Linked DNA regions of Homo sapiens: regions 1, 3 and 4 are each linked to region 2. The links come from fine-mapping of genetic effects on gene expression. A gene starts in region 2. Each other region holds a variant in brackets. All regions are shown on one strand. Distances are between the middles of the regions.

The links. PIP is the estimated chance that this variant, and not a neighbour inherited with it, causes the effect.
Region 1: its variant is the best candidate, but not a certain one, in a credible set for the expression of CSGALNACT2 in monocytes after R848 (Quach 2016, PIP 0.54).
Region 3: its variant is the best candidate, but not a certain one, in a credible set for the expression of CSGALNACT2 in putamen (GTEx, PIP 0.78).
Region 4: its variant is the best candidate, but not a certain one, in a credible set for the expression of CSGALNACT2 in whole blood (INTERVAL, PIP 0.79).

The regions. Positions count from the first base shown.
Region 1 is chr10:43,170,683-43,175,856 of GRCh38, reverse strand. All of the region lies in intron 6 of CSGALNACT2 (chondroitin sulfate N-acetylgalactosaminyltransferase 2), which reads right to left. Among named protein-coding and RNA genes, the nearest start is that of CSGALNACT2, 35 kb to the right of the region's middle. RefSeq lists an enhancer at 2,823-2,992. The variant G/A (reference allele first, on the strand shown) is at 3,119.
Region 2 is chr10:43,136,153-43,141,326 of GRCh38, reverse strand. It overlaps CSGALNACT2 (chondroitin sulfate N-acetylgalactosaminyltransferase 2), which reads right to left and starts at 2,882. Exons shown (of 8, transcript NM_018590.5): 1 at 2,760-2,882. CSGALNACT2-DT (CSGALNACT2 divergent transcript) reads left to right here and starts at 2,934. Exons shown (of 1, transcript NR_186456.1): 1 at 2,934-4,503. RefSeq lists silencers at 2,346-2,415, 2,526-3,025, 3,196-3,255, 3,386-3,585.
Region 3 is chr10:43,114,478-43,119,528 of GRCh38, reverse strand. RET (ret proto-oncogene) reads right to left here. Exons shown (of 20, transcript NM_020975.6): 11 at 4,793-5,049; 12 at 2,798-2,945; 13 at 1,049-1,156. Among named protein-coding and RNA genes, the nearest start is that of CSGALNACT2-DT, 21 kb to the left of the region's middle. The variant A/G (reference allele first, on the strand shown) is at 3,112.
Region 4 is chr10:43,252,161-43,257,334 of GRCh38, reverse strand. The region is part of intron 1 of RASGEF1A (RasGEF domain family member 1A); the gene reads left to right. Among named protein-coding and RNA genes, the nearest start is that of RASGEF1A, 12 kb to the left of the region's middle. RefSeq lists a silencer at 1,198-1,387. The variant G/A (reference allele first, on the strand shown) is at 2,086.

The DNA of each region.
Region 1 (5,174 bases), 35 kb before region 2:
TTTTTCCTGTCATTTATGTGACTGATTAAGGATCACATGCACTTATGTTATTAAATCCTTACAAAACAAATAAAAATAGAACTCAAAGCCTGTACAAGGTGCAAGCTGAGGTTACTAATTATCATTGTGGTGCCTGACTTCAAGGGGCTTACATTCTAGGACAACAGTTGCATAAACAAATTGTAACACACAGGATCAACCTTACACAGTAGACTTTATCTGGTGCCTACCCAGTATCCATTCCCCCAACCCCCTTCCTGATTGGTACAGTTTTGTTCTGGTAATTACCTGGCCCTGGGCAGCCCATGAATTCAGGGAAGCTGCTGTCACCAGTAGATTCGGAGTGGGCCATGAGTCTCTATACTAGTGAGACAGTCTCACCCCACTTACCATAGTGGCTCACTTACTTACTGGCTCACTAATAGGTATTTAAAAAAAAATCAGGCCAAGTAGGTAAACCAGGGTGGTTGTTGGGAACTTTGGAAAACAAAGCTCCTTCGTTCTTCTAAGAGACTCACTAGAAAGGACATTTGGTCGTAGGGCAGGGTCAGCAAACGATGGCCTCTGGCTAAATCTGGCCTGCTGCCTGCTTTAGTAAATAATTTTAGTGGAACGTAGTTGTGTTGATCTGTTTACAAATTGTCTATGGGTGCTTTCACAGTGCAGTGGCAGAGTTGAGTAGTTGCAGCAGAACTGTATGGCCTATAAAGATTAAAACATTTCTTATCTGGCTCTCTACAGAAAACATTTGTTGACCTCTAGTGCACGATGCAGCTATGAAGCTTGGAACTGCCAAAGTCCTTTTCTACCATGCGAGAAACCAGCTTTAATATGAGGCTGTCACCACTTAAGTCTAAGTAGAGAAAGAAATATAAAACCAGGGCATTGATGACACTGAGTCCTTGGAATCACTTCTGCTTACAAGTTGAAGCCTGATAAACCTTTTATTTTATTCATACTTTCAACAAGTGTTTAATCTTTTGGATATGGTTCTAGTAACTGAGGCTTAGCAATAAACAGAGGTGACAAAGTCCCTGCCATCAAAGCGCCTTTGTTTGGGTGGGAAAATAGTAAATAAATAAATATACATTTTAGGTGGTGATACATGCTACAAAGAAAAGAGGCAACAGCTATAACTAGGGATGGGAAGCTGCTAGTCTAGTGTGTGCTACTGTGGTATGTACCAAAAGCAAAAGAGTGTATGGATGTGGAATGTGGAAAAGATTTAGGTCAGAGACTTCACAGAAGTCAGCAAGTGATTGAATGGGCAGGAGTGGGGAGTGAAGGAGAAGGATCAACCAAGATGACAGCAGGCTTCCGTCCTGAACAGTGGGTATGTAATGGTGCTATCCCTAAGATGAAGCCCAGGGGAAGGGCCAGCCCAGAGAGGAACAACATGGAGTTGGTTCTGGCCATAATGAATCTGAGTGATCTGTAAGGCACCTACACAGAAATTCCTGCAGATAGCAGGAATATCAAGGTCTGCAGAGGTGACAAATTTTGAGAAGAGTGGGCACAGTCTGAAATTGCTGCTGTACAGAATAGGAGAATCAACAGGAAAACACATAATGAACCAGGCAGCCCTGAGGGCTCAGCTCAGATTGGAGCTGATGGATGAGTTTGGCATTTTTCTTTTCAATTTTTTTTTTTTTGAGCTGAGGGGGAGAACTTCTTCCCCTTCTAGAATGTAAAGCTCCCTGAGGGGAGGACTTGTGGATTCTGTTCACTGCTATATTCCTAGCACCTAGAACAATGCCAGGCACATGACAAGCTTTCAATAAATACGTGTTGAATAAATAAATATATAGAGAGACATAATTTTAGTGGCAAAATGAAGACTAGACTCTATTATTATTATTATTTTGAGACAGAGTCTCACTGTGTTGCCCAGACTGGACGGCAGTGGCACAATCTTGGCTCACTGCAACCTCCAGCTCCCAGGTTCAAGCGATTTCCGTGCCTCAGTCCGCTGAACAGCTGGGATTACAGGTGTGCGCCACCACACCTGGCTAATTTTGGTATTTATAGTAGAGACAGGGTTTCACCATGTTGGCCAGGCTGGTATCGAACTCTTGACCTCTGGTGATCCACCCACCTCGGCATCCCAAAGTGCTCGGATTACACGTGTGAGCCACCACTCCTGTCTCTAATATTCTTATCTCTTTGTTAAAATATAACCCTGATACAAAGTATTAAAAAGCAAAACACCCACTTTGACATCTCTACACCATGCCAATTCTGATTATATAAGTACTATAACTTTGTAACTTAGTTTCTCTAAAAATTCTTCAAATATTATCAGACTTGGAAAAAGGAATCATTGGTTTGATTTTTAAAGCAACACATTTTCACAAAGGAAAGTAGAAGGAAACTCAAATTGTCCATAATCCTTATTGTTAATATTTTCTTGCACTGTTTTATCTGGCCTCCTAAGCATGTGGGAGATGCAGTTATCCACACATAACCTATATACCCAAGCCTTGGCCTCTCACAGAATGCCAGATCCCTGTAGCCAACTAGCAATTTGGCACCTCCCCTTGGATGTCTGATAAACAACACATGGCTACTATGGCTCCAGTTGAATCCCAATCTCTGCTCTCCCATTCCTTTCCTTTGCTAATTTCCTACATCTAATCCAACAGCAAGCTCTGTCAGCCCTATCTCTGAATCATATCCAAACCTTTCTCCGTAATTATAATACACTGTCACCCAAGCCACAATCATCTCCCCTTGTCTACTGTGAAAGCCTAACTGGCTGCTGCCAGCCAGAGCCACACACAATCCATTCTCCCTCCAAAGGCTTTCCAACATACTTAGCATAAAATCCCAATGCCTTCCAGAGGCTGAACAAGCTCTACATGCCCTGGCCCAGCTATGTGCCCCTCACCGGCTGTGCTCCAAACACCCTAGGAAACCCAGTAGCTGTTCTTTCTGCCTGAAACCACTATCCCCCAATCACAGCCTAGCTGGTTCTTTCCTGTTCTTTGGACAGCTCTGCTCAGCTTCATCTCAGAAACACCTTTCTGACCAAACAAGCCACAGAAACCACGGAGTCACTCTTTGCAACTCAGTCTGTTTTAATGATCCACGTGGCATGCATTATCTGATTTTACTTTCT[G/A]TCACCTCCTAATAAATAAAGATCCTCACGAGCAACAGCCATATCTGTTAGGGTCTAAGTGTCAGGGTGCCAGTGGTGGATAGTGCGTGGCATCAAAGGGACCCTCAATATTTGATGAATTAATATAACAGAGGCAGTGTGCACAGTGGACAGGAGTGGAGGCTGCGGAGCCACATCACCCAGCCTCCTGGGCCTACTCAGGCCAGTGTGTACTTGGACAGGCACTCGACTGCAGCACAGCTGTGAAAAATGGGGCAGTAATACTACATACCTCAGAGGTTGTTAGGAGGATTAAATGAATTAATGTGTAGGCAAAACAGAACAAGTACCCTGCACATAGTAAGGGGTTCATAAAAATATTAGCTATTATCATCATTTAAATGTTACCTAAAATATAGATACGCTATTTCCCGCTTTTTAGCTTTACATTTTCCTCTTCATTTACACGGCTGTATTTACATTTTTCACATTTTCCTTGATATGCAATATTCACCAGAGAATGTACCATAATTCAATTTATCCTTTTATTATTAGAGTTTTGCTTGCTTTTAATGTTATCAATTTATGCATATTACCATCATGTAGCTCGATTACTTCCCCAGGAAAGACTGTTGGGGGTGGAAATTACTGGATCAGAGGGATGAATCTGTTTAGAACTCGACTCAGAGAACTGGCCTGAATCCCCAACAGAAGCGACGGAGGAGCTCCCATCCCCCAGTCTTGCTCACATGGCTTTGCTTTTTAAAAGCAGTGACCTAACAGCAGAAACAAAGCATTATACTGCTGTTCTAAATTATTCCTAGTAAGGCTGACTATTTAAATATGTGAATTATCAACTGTCTTACCCATTTTTTTCCTTCTTATTTACTTCTAATATAGCTTTAAACATCAAGGAAAACAAGTTTTTGTCTTTTAAGTGAGGAGACTGAAGCTTAGAAAAGTTAAGCAACTTGCAAAGGTTACAAGTGGTGAAACTAGAACTTGAAGTGCTTAAACTTAAGTTGCTATGCAACACCTAGAATGAATCAGCATTCAAATCATTCTTCCCCTACAACCCTCCAAACCAGGCAAGAATATTAGCATGCTTTGGCCGGGTGCGGTGGCTCATGCCTATAATCCCAACACTTTGGGAGGCTGAGGCCAGCAGATCACAAGGTCAGGAGTTCGAGACCAGTCTGGCCAACATGGTGAAACCCCATCTCTACTAAAAATACAAAAATTAGCTGGGCGTGGTGGTGTGTGCCTGTAATCCCAGCTACTTGGGAGGCTGAGGCAGGAGAATCGCTTGAAACGGGAAGGTGGAGTTTCCAGTGAGCCAAGATCATGCCACTGCACTCCAGGCTGGGCAACAAGAGCGAAACTCCATCTCAAAAAAAAAAAAAAAGAGTATTAGCATGCTTTTACATTCCCTTCACGCTTCTATGTTGACTTTATTTGCCTCTTTTTGTTTTAATTAATTTTAATATACAACCTTTTATTTTGGAATAATTTTAGATTTACAAAGAAGTTGCAAAACAGTAAAGAGAGTTCCTGTATACCCCTCATCCAGTTTTAGCTTCCCCTAATGTTATCATCTTACATTGTTGTGGTACATTTGTCAAAACTAAGGAACCATCATTGCTATATTACTATTTAACTCAACTCCAGATTTCATTTGGATTTCACCAGCTTTCCCTTTACTGTCTTTTTTTTCTATTCTAGGACCTAGTCCAGGGCACCACATTGCATTTGGTTGTCATGTCTCCTTAGTCTCCTCTTGGCTATGATGGTTTCTCAGTCTTGTTTTTGGTGACCCTGACAGTTTTGAGGAAGAATGGTCAGGTATTTTGTACAATGCTCCTCAATGTGGGCTTGCTGCAGCTTTCCCTGTGACTTTCCTGGGGAAGTTATCTACGTTTTTGGAAGAGGACTGTGAGCTAAAGTGTCCTTCTCATTATGTCATGTCATGGGTACATGGTATCCCTTGGTTAAGGTGTCTGCTGGGTTTCTCCCGTGAAAAGTTTGTTTTTTCTTTCCATACTATGTTCTTTGAAAGTGAGTCCCCTAGTTCCACCTA
Region 2 (5,174 bases):
AGAATGGCGTGAACCTGGGAGGTGGAGCTCGCAGTAAGCCGAGATGGCGCCACTGCACTCCAGCCTGGGCAACAGAGCCAGACTCCGTCTCAAAAAAAAAAAAAATTATTTGTAGAGACAGGGTCTCATTATGTTGCCTAGGCTGCTCTCAAACTCCTGGAATCCAGAGATCCTCCTGCCTCGGCCTTCCAAAGTGTTGGAATTACAGGCATGAGCCACCACACCTGGCCCTTTCCTACTTTCCATGTTTAAATATTCAAGAATCAATTGCTTTTTTTCATGGCAGCCTGTATGTGTTCAGTAGGCATAATACCTTAACAAATTTGAAGATACTAATACTTACTTTAAAGCTTTCTTTTGTCTTACATTAGCTCCACTGCTTCAGTGCCTAGTTCTGTATTTGTTTGGTCTGAAGCTTCTCTTAGATGCTACCGATTTCCCACAAATGTTTAGTGATTTTTGTTGTGTGTTCACATTATAAATGTGCTAGTAGTATCTCAGTCCATATGAAAATCACTGTACTCCTGCTGTGAATTCACATTTGTAACTAGCCCTATAATTCAATTTTACACTTATACCTAGTGCTTGTGTAGCATGACAATAACAATGTAAGTTCTTTGACTTGCAGTCCCGTGATTCTTCAATCCACTTTCAGTCATATCCTTTTGGTATTTCATTTCCTCTAAAAAACCACTAACTTGAGTAATACAGTTCTTAAGTAAATGTTATGCTAAACTTCAGAGTCAGATCCTCACCAGCTCTAACAGACTTGTCTAACAGTTAAACAAACAATGACAGTCCGACAGAAGACAGTCATAAATGTGCAATTCAAAGGGTAAATAATAACATGGTAATGAATGAATCACTTACGTCTTGAACTCATAATAGTTATGCTTTTTTAAAACCAACCTTGAATGTTATATTAGTTAAAATAACAAATTCTATTACATTAAAAAAAAGATGACTCCATGTTGGTTAAATTTTCTGCCTTTGGTTGGTAATGGTATGGTTGGTAATGACTCCATGTTGGTAATTTTCTGCTTATGCCATGACTCAGTCATTCTATAGCTGACAGAAATGCATACAGATGCTCACCAAGACATTTAATTTACAAGAATGTCCACAGTACTCTTTTTTTTTTCTTTTCTTTTTGAGACCGAGTCAGGCTCTGTCGTCCAGGCTGGAGTGCAGTGGCACGATCTCGGCTCACTGCAACCTCCACCTCCCGCCTCAGCCTCCCAAGTAGCTGGGCTTACAGGCGCCCGCCACCACGCCTGGCTAATTTTTGTATTTTTAGTAGAGATGCGGTTTCACCATGTTTGCCAGGCTGGTCTCGAACTCCTGACCAAGTGATCCACCTGCCTCGGCCTCCCCAAGCGCTGGGATAAAAGGCCTGAGCCACCACGCCAGGCCCACAGTATTCTTAATATCCAAAACACATCATATACAAAAATTGGGAACATAAATGTCCATCAACTGAAGAGTAGTCACATATTATTCAATAGACTATTACACAGTAATAATACAATACCATGAAATAGCATGGGTGTGTCCCACAAACAATATGCTGAGAATACTACGTGATTCCATTAACATGAAGCTCAAAACAGAGAAAACTAAAAGCAGATAAGAGAAGTTAGAATACAGATGGGAAAACAAGGATATAACTGACTTGGAAGAAGCACAGGAAAATAGGATGATGGAAATGTTCTATGGTTATAATTTGATATATCTGGTGGTTCCACAGGGTAATAAGTATGTAAAAATTCATTGAGCTGTACAATTAAGATTCGTGCTCTTATTGATTTCATATGTATTTTATGCCTCGACAAAAACAAAGAGAAAAATGCAGCTTCTAAACTGGTTGGAACTGTGTTTATTTAGGCCAAAATCCTCTGAGCCACAAATACTGGAAATCCATCTTTTTTCATTCTTTTAGTTACATGACAACTTTAAACAAATGGTACAAGAACAATAATACAAAATGAACGCTAACACTCAGTCCTAAAATACTTGGCTTCTTACTTCCAAGATCGAAGCTACTATTTTAATACAACATTCAAAAAACAACATTAATTACCAGACATGAAGGCCCTGCTCCCGCGAGCCTTGAATGACGGTGAAACGTCACGACATCCCATATCTATCTCAAAAGCACGCTAGAAAATACCTCCAAGTTTAACAAGCCAAGGACTCAGGAAGAGAAGCTTCAGATGTATAATCAAACTATCATACCGCCAATACCATCATCACAAACAGAAGTATCACTGTCGTGCTTCCTGCGTTGCTCAAGGGTAGAGTCATTTTTAAGGTGCATTCTCCGACAACGCCAGAGGCTCCCCATCTCCTCCGCCCCACTGAGCCCTCCACGACAGAGCATCTTTACCGGCGCTCGCTCTGCCATCTACAGATAAAGAGGGGCTGAGGGCAGAACTATTTTAACGCGATGACGAGGTCACCACTGATTAAAAAGTTTATCCACTGAGAGGAGCAGAGATGGTGATGAATAGGTAAAAACAAAACGAAACAAAACAAAACCCAACACTGACAAGCGAACCAATCGTCTCTGGCCGCGCTTTCCCTAAAACCGGTGCCGACTCCGGCAGGCTCATCCCTGAGAGACAGGGCCCCCCGCAGGACCGGTCCGCTAGGCGACCCCACCCGACCACACAGGAGCCCGCAGCCCCGGCGCCCGCACCGCCCGGGCCGGAGCCGGCGGGAGTCGCGGACCGGCGGGCGAGGCCGGGCCAGGTACTCACCGCGCTCGCCCGCTCTGCGCTCCACCGCCTCCTGCGCCGCGGGGACACCCGGGCGGCGCCTCACGCCTTGGGCCCGCCGCCGCCTCAGCCACCCACCCCCGGGCGCGCCGCCGCGCCTGAGAGGCCACTTCCGGCGCGCGCGAGGAAATGAAGCCGCCGCGCGCCCGCGGCCCCGCCCAGGAAGCTCCGCCACTGGCAGCTGGGTACCGATTCATCACCGACGTGTTTAAAGTATCCGTGTGTGTGCCTCCAAAAACCGTTTGTGGAGACAGCAGAGTGCCCGAGGCAGGAAACCGCTCCGGCCTGGAGGCGCCCCTGCCCGGACTCGTGGACTGCAGCGCTGTCCCGCTCGGAAGCCGATCCTGGGAGTCCGAGCGGGGCCGCGGGGCCTGCGTGGCAGCCGAGTCGAGGGCTTCGGGCCGCGGGGCTGTGGAGCGCCCCTTGGCGCTGGGCCGCCGGCAGCCGTGAGCGCATCACTGCATTTCCCTGGAGGAATTCCTCATCTGTTGAATGAGGGAGTTGAGGCGGACACGCTGGGAAATGGCTTCGAGCTCACACACTGATTTTCGTGAGTGGAAAGAGAAGCCCTTTCTTAGGCGTCTTCCATACCACTGCATGTTCCAGGGTCCTCCCTGGGCTCTCTGTCTCCCACGCCACCGCGAGCACGGCCTAAGCGGGCGAGCGAAGGCGCGACGGCGCCGAGAGCCGGCTGTGGTGGGTGCCGGGCGCGTCACCGCGGGCTGGCGGGGGAGGGGACGCTGGGAAGCTCTCCAGAAAGAGGAGCCGCCACCGAGCAAATTCCCATCTGCCACGCACCGCAGAGCCTCGCCCTCCGCCGCCAGCATTTTCTTTCTTTGTTCTCCTAGCCCTACAAACGCTGGGTTTCCTTTCTCATTCGTGGACTTTTTTCCCTGGATCCTTCTTACTGCTCCTACCCTGTGGCCGCACGTCTGGCAGATGCGCGGCGGGCGCTGCCTGAACCCCCGAATCCTCACAAGCCTCTGTGCAGCGGCCACGGCCCTCAGCTAGCGGCGGGGAGACTGAAGCCGCAGGGTCAGGGTTAGTTGCCACATGTTTTAAATTCCTATCCAAACTTCCATTATAATTGTTTTTATTTATTTATTCATCTATTTTTTGAGACAGGGTCCCGCTCTGTCGCCCAGGCTGGAGTGCAGTGGAGCGATCACGGTTCACTGCAGCCTCCCCACCTCCGACTCCAGCGATCCTCTCGCCTCAGCCTCCCGAGTAGCTGGGACCACAGGTGCATGCCACCATGCCCGGCTAATTGTTAATATTTTTTTTGGTAGAGATGGGGCCTCCCTCTGTTGCCTAGGCTGGCCTTGAACTCCTGGGCTCAAGCGATCTTCCAGCTTCGGCCTCCCAAAGTGCTGGCATTACAGGCGTGAGTCACCCCGCCTGGCAAGAATTGTTGTTTTGAAACTAACTGAGGTTCTCCCATCAATGGATTTAAATTGTTACTTTTTAATGATTTTTTTTTAAGTAGCCAAATACTAAATGTATGTAATTTGAATGTGGAGAGAAGATAATGCATGATTCAAATTATGTGGCTGATCATGGGTGATACACTGGGATATAGTTGTAAAATAAGTAGTTCTCCTAGGGAAAATATTAAAGTACAACTGTGTTGGGTTTAATATCAGAAAAATGTAATTAAAAACATTTCCTGCCAATAATTTCCAATCTGATACTTAAACAAAACAAAACAATAAAAGTTTCCCATCTCTTTCGGGCCTTTTAAATTTCTACCAAAAGTAAGTGATGCTGGCTGATTCCCCTGCTATAGCAAGTTGTGAATAAATAGCCTTTGCTGGTTTCCACAGTTTTCCTGGTGATCCCATGGTAAGTCTGTACTGCTTGTCCCTGAGGTCCCCAGGCTTCCACCCATTGTGCCACCCAGAGGCCCCTCATGCCTCCATGTTCTCGGCCTATCAGGTGCGCCGATGTGGTCAGCACTAGGGCTCACCTCACTCTGCGTGGAGGTCTCTGGCTATTTATTCTCAGTTTGGTACTCTGGTTTTGTTATTGATTCTCATTTGTCTGGCATCTCTAGTGGAATCAGGCCATTCTTTTTATCCCTTTTCACTGTATTTTGTGTTAGTGTTTAGTGTTGTGCTGTCAAAAAGTGCTGCTTGTCATAAGAAGGAAAACCGTAGGAAAGGACACAGGCATGGGGCTCATAAGCCTCTTGTTTGAGCCAGCCTCGCAGCTCATGATTTAGCAGTTCTCATCACACCGGCCTCTACTTGGAGAAACTTTGCTGTGGGTTTCCAGTAAAACTGAATGAGGTTCTCCTTCCGTCTCGCTTTCATGTCCTGAGAGACACAAACATTCCATTTCTCGCCAGCCTCACCAGCCAGCATTCATGGTGTTGTCTAAGTTTAAATCTCCTCCTCC
Region 3 (5,051 bases), 22 kb after region 2:
GGGGGCGGAGAGAGGGGGCCCTGGGCGTGCGGGTCAGGCAGCTTGGGTCTTCCAGGAGCCAGGGGTGGGAGGCCGCAGGGTCCCCAGGCCCGGCCACCCAATGAGTAAGGGGGTGGACACAGCCCTGCCTCAGGCAGCACTGCTGCAGCTCTGTGGAGAGCGCAGACCTTGAAGCCTCAGCTTTCTCTTGAACCACTTGCTCTCTGCCTCCTGCTGCTCGTGTGGGTGCCTCCTTCTCGAGGTGCCTGAGGCAGGCGACACTGCCCTGGGAGGCACCCCTCCCTGATGCTAGGACGCCAAGCCTTTTTGCCTCCTGGGTCCTGCCCCAGTGCAGGCTGGGGATGCTGATGGAGGCAGAGGCCTGCGCAGATGCAAGGGTTCCTGCCTGGCGCTGGGCTCTGCACACAGCCTGCTCCCTGTTCCCACCTGTCCTGTCCCAGGCCCAGCCTCCAACTCTACTGGTGCCGACCACAGTGCCTGCTGCGCACTCCCGGTGTTTGGGTTCCCTATCCCTCTCGCACACACCCACACACGCATGCTGGGAAGCCCCTGAGCAGCATGGTGGTTTGGAAAACCAACAAACCAGGCTGGTCTCCTGGGTCTTTATCTGAGAAATGGTGACAATGTTCCTGCCATGCAGGGCGGGGCTGGGGTCACCTGAGGTCACAGCACACCTGGTGCCCTGTGGTACCCAGGGTACCCTAGTACCCAGGATGCACTGTCCATTCCTAGAGCTCCCTGCCCCACGGGCCCAGCCCCGAACTGGGTGAGGACACATGGCAGTGTCACACCAGAGACCTCTGAGTAGCCCTGTGGGCCCAGGGAGTGCCGCTAGCGCGGGGCCCCTCTGATGGAAAGTGACCACTCAGCCCGTGGACTCAGCTAGACACAAGCTCCAGGCTGGGGCCTGAGCCAGGCTTCCAGAAAGAGGGAGAACAGGAAACAGGGCAGGAGCAGTAGGGAAAGGGAGAAAGAGGGAGAACAGGGCTGTATGGAGCCCCCAGCCTGGGTGCAGTGGCTGCCCACCTCACCCTGCAGCTGGCCTTACCATCCTGGCTGCAGGCCCCATACAATTTGATGACATGTGGGTGGTTGACCTGCTTCAGGACGTTGAACTCTGACAGCAGGTCTCGCAGCTCACTCGGGGAGGCGTTCTCTGAAATGCAGCACAGAGCAGGTTGCAAACGATCGCTCCTGGAAGCCCCTTCCATGACCATACCAGGTCAGGATGGACCTGCATCGCCTTGCCCAAGTTCAGACAGAGAGGCCTGCAAAGACGATGCTGCTTGAGGCTTCTCCCAGCCTTTGGGATCAGTGGACAGGGGCCTCATCCACCCTGAGGAAGAAGCACCCTGAGGAGCCAGCAACCACACATGCCGGATCTTTCCCCAGAGTGTCCCAGGGCTGGGCCACCTGTGTATGTGGCATTATGTTCCTGTAGTCATTGTCTTTAGAAGACAGTCGTCCACAGAAATTCCCCGCATTAATCATTCTGGAAAGGTGAGGGGTACCCACACACCCACTTGTCGGGAGAGGCCCTGGAGAAGGTGGAGAGCCATAAAGGAGGTCCACACACCGCGACCAGGCTCCCCATTTCCCGCTCCTGTCTGAGATGGCCAGCCTGGAGCCCAGGCATCTCCTGTGCTGCTGATGTATCCGTCACACACACGTCAGCAGCTCACACTCCGTTAGTTACCAAGAAGACCCACATTAGCACCTGAGATAAAGCAGTGTTACCAGTGCACTGCACACCTGACATTCTGGCTTATTCTTAATGAATAGCATGATTCCCCAGAGAGTCTAACTGTAGAGGCATGATGGAAACAGGACGAGGCACCACAGGGATCACCTGCCCAGCACATGCGTCCCGATGGTGGCCAGAGCTGTGCTGGAATGCCCAGCAGGTGCCTGGGCCTGAAGGTATTCCAAGAGTCAGAACACATGGCTAAGCCATCCCTCCCAGGTCAGCTGTCCCACTGCCCAGCTGTGCCGTGCCACCTCCTCTGTCCTGAAAGGTTGTCTGGAAGGGAGAGGACAGTTGGGAGTTGGGGCCCCAGGACCCCTTGGACCAGGTGTGGGCAGCCTGGGGCTGTGCATGGCTGCAATGGAAATCCAAGGGTCTCCCTGTGCCCCTGGAGAGTCCGGGGTTTTACTGGCTTGGAGGTGAACCCAGTCTGGGGCTGGGTAGGCATCTGGAAGCACCCTGTGCTGTGCAGCCCCCGACTACTGCAGATAATTGTTATGTACACCAACCACTCTCCCTCACCGCCATTCAGCCTGGCTGTTCACAGGGCTGGGGCCTGGCCACAGAAGAGGGGGCTACTCAGTGCAGTCGCATGCCTGTGTGGGTAGGTGCATGTGCCCATCGAGAGCCAAACTTGTGGCATGACTGGGCATGCAGGCCAGACAGGCCCATGGGGGTCTCTTGAGATTGAGGGCCAGTCCTTACTGGTGGTCTCTTCACCAAGACCCCAGGAGACACTGGGCTGAGAGGAATGAATGGGGCAGACTGGAGTGAAGACAGCTGTCAGCTCAAAATCAAAGGGCTTTTTAAATGTTTAAAGCTTAGATCTTCAGTGGCACTGGCACAGCAACACCTCTAGAGCCTTCCAGGGAGAGCAAAGTCCTCGCTCTGCTTCTCTAGGCCCAAGTGGCCCATGGTAGGGGTCCCCCAACTGCAGCCGCTCTAGAACAGCATTGGGGGCTCTTCAGGGTCCCATGCTGGGCAGGAGGGGCCTCACCCGCCCCCCGCCCCGGAGACTCCCCCAGGGGCACTGTGCCTGTGCCTGGCAGGTACCTTTCAGCATCTTCACGGCCACCGTGGTGTACCCTGCTCTGCCTTTCAGATGGAAGGCCGTTGCCTTGACCACTTTTCCAAATTCGCCTTCTCCTAGAGTTTTTCCAAGAACCAAGTTCTTCCGAGGGAATTCCCACTTTGGATCCTCCTATGTTGGAAATGAGGGAAGGGGGAGAAGAGGGGGGAAAAGTGTGAGGATGACAGGGGAGGAAGAAGGCAAGACCCTTAAAGGAGGCCCCATGGACAAGTTCCAATGTGCAGAGAACCGGCTGTCATCTGAGCCAGCGGCAACGCTGCCTGTCTCTGCCCTGGGC[A/G]GGACCCCACAGCCAGGCCCCTGAAAGCTGCTACATGACAGGTGTGGTCACAGCATGGCTTGGACTCAGTACTTCGACCCTCTCTGGTTCCTGGTCTACTGTCTCCCCTGACCCCTGCCCCAGGACTAAATGAGCACCAGGCCCAGCCCAGGACCTCTGACTACAGTGGAAGTGTCCAGGACAACTTCTCTACATAGCCACCCCTGCAAAGAAAGGCGCCACCATGTTCCGCCTCAGAGTGTGGAAGCACTGCTCCTCAAGGGCTGCCACTGGCCCTCACGCACCCGCTCACCCTGCCTGCTGGCACTACCACCCTGCCCTCCCACCAAAGTTCTATCCACACATTGGGCCCACTTGGGACTGCTCCGGATGCCTTCCCAGACCCCCACCCTGGCCCCCAGTACTTGAACTCTGACCAGGGAGGCCAAAGCCTGCCATGATCCAGGAACCCTCCCTTGATGTGCCAGCTCTGGGCATCCGTCACCCCAGGTCTCCTGCTCCTGGGCTGTCCTGGTCTGGCCCCACATTCCCTGGGAACCCACAGTCAAGGTCAGTGTCGACACTGCCATGGCTTCCCTGCCGCTGTCACCTCCACAGCTGGCACTGGAAACCTGTTTACCACACTCTAGAGACTGCAATAAGCACATGAGGGCGACATCAACCTGATCCTCTCAAATACTGAGGTTGAGTCATGGGTCCAAGACCTGGTGCTGATGAGTGTGACTCTGGAGCTGACTGGGGTTAGGGTGGTGGTCTCTGCCAGCAGCAGCCCAGACCAGTGCGGCCTTCCTGGGCAGCCTCACACAAACCCACTGGGTTTATGAAGGACTCTGGTGGCTCATCCTAGAGCCCTGCCATGAGGCTAAGCTGCAGCCAGGCCAGGATGGGGACCACCAATTAGGAAAGCTGGTGGGGAAGCGGCAGTGGCCACATCTGGGAAGGCCTCCTTGGCTCACACCCTTACCGAGGGCTGGGTGTTGCCTGAACGGAGGCTCCAGGGCCGAGGCCTCAGGCTGAGCTGCACTGTGGGATATGGCCCCTCCCAGGAATCCCAGGCCACCTCCCAGCCTGAGATGGGAACTGCCAGGGCCCTGTGGCCACTGGGTGCTCAGCTTCCTCCCTGGAGGCTCCTGCCGAGGAGCTATTCACGCCACCATAAGCTGCGTGGCTCACCGTTCACTCACACCCTTGGCTCTGAGCCTCTGTTACTTCCAGAACTGGGCTTGGCTTCCAGCGCCCTGGACAGTGCTAGTAGGAACACTGAAGGGGCAGGCCACCACCAGGAGAGGGCAGAGGCCTGCCTGGCCGGGACAAGGAGGCTCCAGGATACTCGGCACAGCCTGGAGGCTCTGAGTAGCACATGCAGACCTGCAGGCCAGGCTCCCCAGAAAGGCACCCCCTTCTGACTTCAGTGCCCCTCCATCCACACTGCTGCTCCCCTGCCCGATGCTGTGACCCTGACCACTGCCTCTCACCTAGATGGGAACGGCACCTCATCACAGTCCCACCCCACAGACTGTCCCCACACAGCGCCCTATGGAAATGGGGGCAGAACACAGGCCTCGTCTGCCCAGCGTTGGCAGCCCCTCACAGGATGGCCTCTGTCTCCCCAGCTGGCCTCCCTCCCTGGAAGGCAGCTGGGGAGGGCAGGGGATCTTCCCTGCCCCGCAGGGACCCTCACCAGGATCTTGAAGGCATCCACGGAGACCTGGTTCTCCATGGAGTCCAGCGAGGGCCGGCGGGCACCGGAAGAGGAGTAGCTGACCGGGAAGGCCTGGGCGGGCCTCCGGAAGGTCATCTCAGCTGAGGAGATGGGTGGCTTGTGGGCAAACTTGTGGTAGCAGTGGATGCAGAAGGCAGACAGCAGCACCGAGACGATGAAGGAGAAGAGGACAGCGGCTGCGATCACCGTGCGGCACAGCTCGTCGCACAGTGGATCT
Region 4 (5,174 bases), 120 kb before region 2:
CACAAGTGGGCCCAGGGTGGGCATGCAAATCATCACCAGTGTGTCAGCGAGGCTTGGAGGGGTCAAGAGTCCTGCTGGTGCTGATAACGAGAAGTGGCCAGTCCAGGGTGTGAACCCAGGCCTCATGGCTCCTCCCTCTTGCTGTGACCTCTGGAGCCATGTGAGGGATTCTGCAAGGTGCTGCTCACCCTCACCCCCACCTGAGAGATGGACTCAGGCAGAACCATTGGAGAGTGGAAAGTTGACCTGGGGAGAGATGTCGGATCACAACCTCACCCACTGCAGGCCATGCACGCCAGGCATGGCCCAGACTCTGGGAGTGCAGACACAACCTAAAAATAGACAGAAATGAGCCTAATGATTCTGGAAGGAGGGAGAGGTGCCAGGAGGGAGCGATGAAGGCAGCCACCCTGGGAAGGCCAGGTTTGGGCAAAACCATGAAGGGAGGAAGGGGGTTTCCGGTTGTAGAGGAAACAGCTGGGCCCCAAGATGGACTCCTGCCGGCAACCAGGGAATGGCAAGAAAGTCGGGGAACAGAGGCCCGGGGTTTCATGCCACCTTCACGGCTCATCTGTGTCTGTGTGCAGATGGCGCGAGTGGGGGCACTGCTCTGTGGCTGTGGTGTGCGCTGGTCCACACCAGACACATCCTCAGCCCCAACGTGGAGAGAACCAGGGACGGGAGACTGTGTGGGGGAAGCGGCTGAGGTCCAGAGTCGCACTGAGTGTGCAGTGCCCTGGAAGCCGAGAGAGGTAGCCCATGCATTACAATGTGGGCAGGGATCCTGGAGAGGCCACTCTGGTCTGCGTATTTGACCTGCTGCACCTCACTTTCTTCACCCACCTCCCTTGGCTATTGATTCACCACCCCCTCCACCCCCAACCAGCCCTTTCTTTCCCTGAGGTTCCTGTTCCTGTTCTTCTTTCTGCCTGTGACAAGCCGCTCAGCCCTTGTCCCATCTCTGAGCACATGGTCCAGGGAGGACACAGCCAGTCACAGCCGGATCAAGAACCAAGCTCCGCACTGGCTGCCTGGATGCAGGCTGCTGTGTGTTCTGGGTAGGGGTTGGGGGACTCCAGCAGCACCTGCCGCACCTGCCCCCGCCTGGCTTGCCTTGTCCTGGCTCCAGGCCCCCTCAGCATCCTCACTCCACCTGTGGCTTGTGGGGCACAGTGTGGCCAGGACAGTCATTAGCATGGGCTCCCTAAAGTCAGTTCACTCTGGGTCCCCTGGGGGCCTCCTCCTGCACAGTGCTCCCCCTAGGCTGGGGATGGCCTCTGTCTAAACACTATGGTAGCTCTAGGGGGCAGGAGAGAGCAGTCAAGCTGAGAGGGCCTCCCTGATCACAGGCGTGCAGCTTTAGCATTGTTGGCAACCAGGGGAGGAAGGAGGGCATCGGAGAAGCCCAGACCACACTGCACCCCCACTCTAGACTGGTGCTCCTCTGGGGGAGTGGGGTGCCAGTGGGCAGACAGCGCCAGGAGCCAGCCCAGAGAAGCCAAGGGTGACAGGTGCCCAGGAATGGCCACACACCCACCACCTGGTGGTCCTGAGCCAACACTTGTGCCTACTCCCACCCCAGCACCCCCAGCCCTGGCTCCAGGGTTCCCCTGACATGGGAGTCTGGGTTTTGGTTTTAACTCTGGCCCTGACCAGTGTCCTGTGTCCTTGGACAGACACTTCCGGTTTCTGGCCTCAGTCTGTGCTGCTATGAAATGCCAGTGACACTCCTCACCTCCTCAGAGTGGTGGCTGCAGAGGGTACATGGCAGAGCTGTGATGTTCCTGTCCTGCTCCAGGTGCAGGCTCTGGGCAGGGCTGTGAGACAAGGAGTGAGGAGTGTGCCTGCCCCCAGAGCTTGCAGCCTAAGAGGAGGTGGGGGCAGCTGTCCCCAGCCTTTGGATGAGGGTGCAGCCCTGGGGCTGGGTCAGGACAGTGGTCAGCTCTCTCACCTCAGCCTGCCCCACTGTCCAGGATATCCTGGAGCCGTCCAGGCCCAGATGGCAGTGGGTGGGGCAGGAAGGAGCGATGCTGAGTGGGCAGCCTAGGCGGGCAGGGCTGGGCGGCTTGGCCTAGGTGGTGTGAG[G/A]GGCCTGGAGGGCGCTGGGGCCTGGGTGGGGCCGTGCAGCATAGTGACTTTGGGAGATTTCCTGGATCCTGCTGTCCTTCCTGCTGGGCATTCCCACTGCAGCCAAGCCCGACACCGGCTGGAGGGGCTGGGCTGGTGGGGCTGGACTCTGCCAGGCAGAGACCAGGTGGTGGCTGGGGCTTCCCGGAGGTGCTGGAAACCCCACACTTCCCGGTTTCCTCTCCAGATGCCTGGGAATGGGGAGCCTCTGCCCAGGAGGAAAGTCCCCAGTGTTCCCAGCCGAGTGTGTCAGGAGTGCGGGGATAGAGGGGCCTCCAGTGGGCCCTGGGGCTACCAGCTACACAAGGAGGTCCCAATGTCAGACCCAATGGAGTCACTGGTGTCATTGCTTGTGTGCCATAAAGGGACTGTCTCCTTTGTTCCCTCCCTTTAGTCAGGGATTATTCTGGGGACCCTAGGAGGAGCCCCTGCTTGGACCCCTGCTTGGAGCTCATCCCACAGAGACCCGTTTTACCTCTGAGCTACAGCAGCGGTTTCCATCCTTGCCTGTGACCACAGAGACTTGCTCAGGGAGCACAGCCTTATGGACTCCCAGCCCCCACCTAGCCCCCACCCAGCCTTCTGCCAGCAGCTGAGGCCCAGAGGCCGGGTGTCACTGCGCTGTGACCTGAGTGTGAAGGTGTCAGTTCCGGGCCCTGCAACAGTAGACCAGGTCCGGGGGCGGGGGTTAGCGGTGCAGCCGTGAGGCCCGAGGTGGAGAGGGCAGGCAGGACCAGCAGGAAGAGCACAGCCCACAGGGCTGGAAGGTCTGGGCCAGGCCCAAGGAGCTTGAAGGATAGGTGCCTGTTAGGAAACCCGTGCCCTCAGCAGGAGGGCCAGTGCCCCACCACACAGATCTAAGGGGGCAACAAGTGGAGGCCGCCAGCACTGGGGGGGTCTACCTACATGGCCCCTTGCAGCCCTCCATGGCCCCACAGCTGTCCTGGTGCCACTGGCACATTGCAGTTCCCAAGAGGACCCTGAAGGCCCCCTCTGTTTGTCTCCCGCCCTCCCTGAAGTGTCCTGGCTCCAGGGTTTCCTGCAGGGGATATTTTCCTGCAGCCCACTTCCTTGCACAGCTGGGGTCACAGAGCACAGCCCTGGTGGGAGGCCATCCACCGAGCACTGGGCCTGGCATGTGAGTCTCCGTCTGCCCTCTGTGGGCCTGAGGGTGGGGAGGATGGTGCCAGACCCCATGGGGAGGCAGGCCTGCCCCAGGCCCAGCTTAGGGGCACTGCCGGGTGAGCCCTAGAGGGGTCCTGCCCCTGTGGTCTGTGCCTGTGGCCAGCCGGCTGGTGCTCAAAGCAGGGTGGGCTGCCCCTGCCTCTTATTGCTGCTGCAAAAAAGTCCCACAGATGGAGCTGCTTCCGCACCACATGCTTCTTATCTCGGCCAGTAGGTCAGAGGCTGGGTCGGGTCTTAGGGGCTGAGGTCAAGGCGCTGGCCGGCCTGCCTCTTCGGAGGCTCCAGGCAGAATCGTGGTCACGCAGGTGTCTGTTGGTAGAATCTCATTCCTTGAGGTCCCCGTCCCCTGTGGGATGTTGGCCCCTGAGGGCCCCTAGAGCCCCCTCTGGGCCTTGTGTGAGGCTCCCTACAGCTCCGAGCCAGCCACAGGTGTTGGGTCCCCTGACGCCACCATCTCCCTGACCCTGTCTTGTCCTCACACTTTCTCTGACTGCAGCGGGGAAAGATTCTTCAACTTTAAGGACTTGTGAATACAATGGGCCCACCCAGGAGAATCTCCCAGCAGCCTTAAGAGCCTCTGCCTAATTACACCTACAGAGTCCCTTTTGCCGAATACGGGAACATTCCCAGGTTCTGGAGATCAGGCTGTGGGCATATTTGGGGGCCATACCCACTCTTGAGAGCCTAATCCCTCACATGAGGTGAGCAAGGCAGCCCTCCCCGGGGATTTGGGAGTTTACAGTCTGGGGAGCTACAAGGACCTCAAATCCACACACGGGGTAGTTTGGAGGTTGTGGCACCCGCTGAACACATCAGGATGAGGTGGTGGGGGGTGTGGGGTGGGTGTCAGGAAGGCTGGACCTGGCCAGGCCCCTCCTGCAGGTGGCCTTGCTACGGTGGGCGTGGAAGTGTGTGGGGGCACCCCCGCCTGTGGGCCCTCCCTGGGCTGGGTGTGCACAGCCCCTTTGTCTGGGGCATGGACAGAGGAGACCATGGGGGTTTGCCCACGATGGGCTCCTTTGAACTCGCTGGTCCTGAAGGCGTGGGGTGCGGTGCTCTGTGAGGAGAGCTGGGGTTGTTGGCAGCAGATTGTGGGTTCCAGTGGGGTGCGGACGATGAGTGCCAGGGTGCAGGGGAGCGGTTAGTCCCAGTGGGTCTGTGTCGAGGGTGAGCAGGAGGCACAGGGTCCTCTCTCGGGTGCTGCCTCCCGCCGCGAGCCAGTCACTGGGTGTGCAGCAGAGGGAGCCTGCAAGCCTCTGTGGAGGGGCTCTATTGCCAGTGGGAGTCAGGTGAGTTTGGCAGCCGAGCCCTGAAACCGGGTCCTCTGTCTGTGCTAAAAAGCCCCTGAGCTTAGGACATGTGAGGGGAAATCAGACCTTCAGAAAAGAAAGTGCACTGTGTCTGCCTCACAGTCACGTCCCCTCCCTTCCTGGGAGTCCATGGCTAAGCAGAAGTCAAGGGCCTGGCCAGGCAGTTGGGTTTGGAAGACAGAGTCACTGACTACCCATTAATGCCCTGCCCTTCCTTCCCAGGCAGGCCTGCCTACTAGAAAGAGCTGCTGGATGCCGAGCCCCGGCCTGTCCCGCAGCCCCGTAGCCCACCCCTTCCTCCCTGCCTTCCAACTCCAAGTGCCTGGCCAGGCCCTTGACTCCTGGCCTGGTTCCCCTGCCCACCTAGTCCTGGCTGTGGAGAGGTGGGTGTGCTGGTCTGTCTGCTCCTTCTGGGGTGCACTGCTCTGTGTCCCACCTGCTGACACCCTTGAAACTAAAGATGTGTCCACGATGTGGAGTGTGCCTGTGTATGCACACCCATGTGGGTGGGTGGCAGTACCGTGCACACACAGGAGTGCCTGGGTCAGCCCTCTA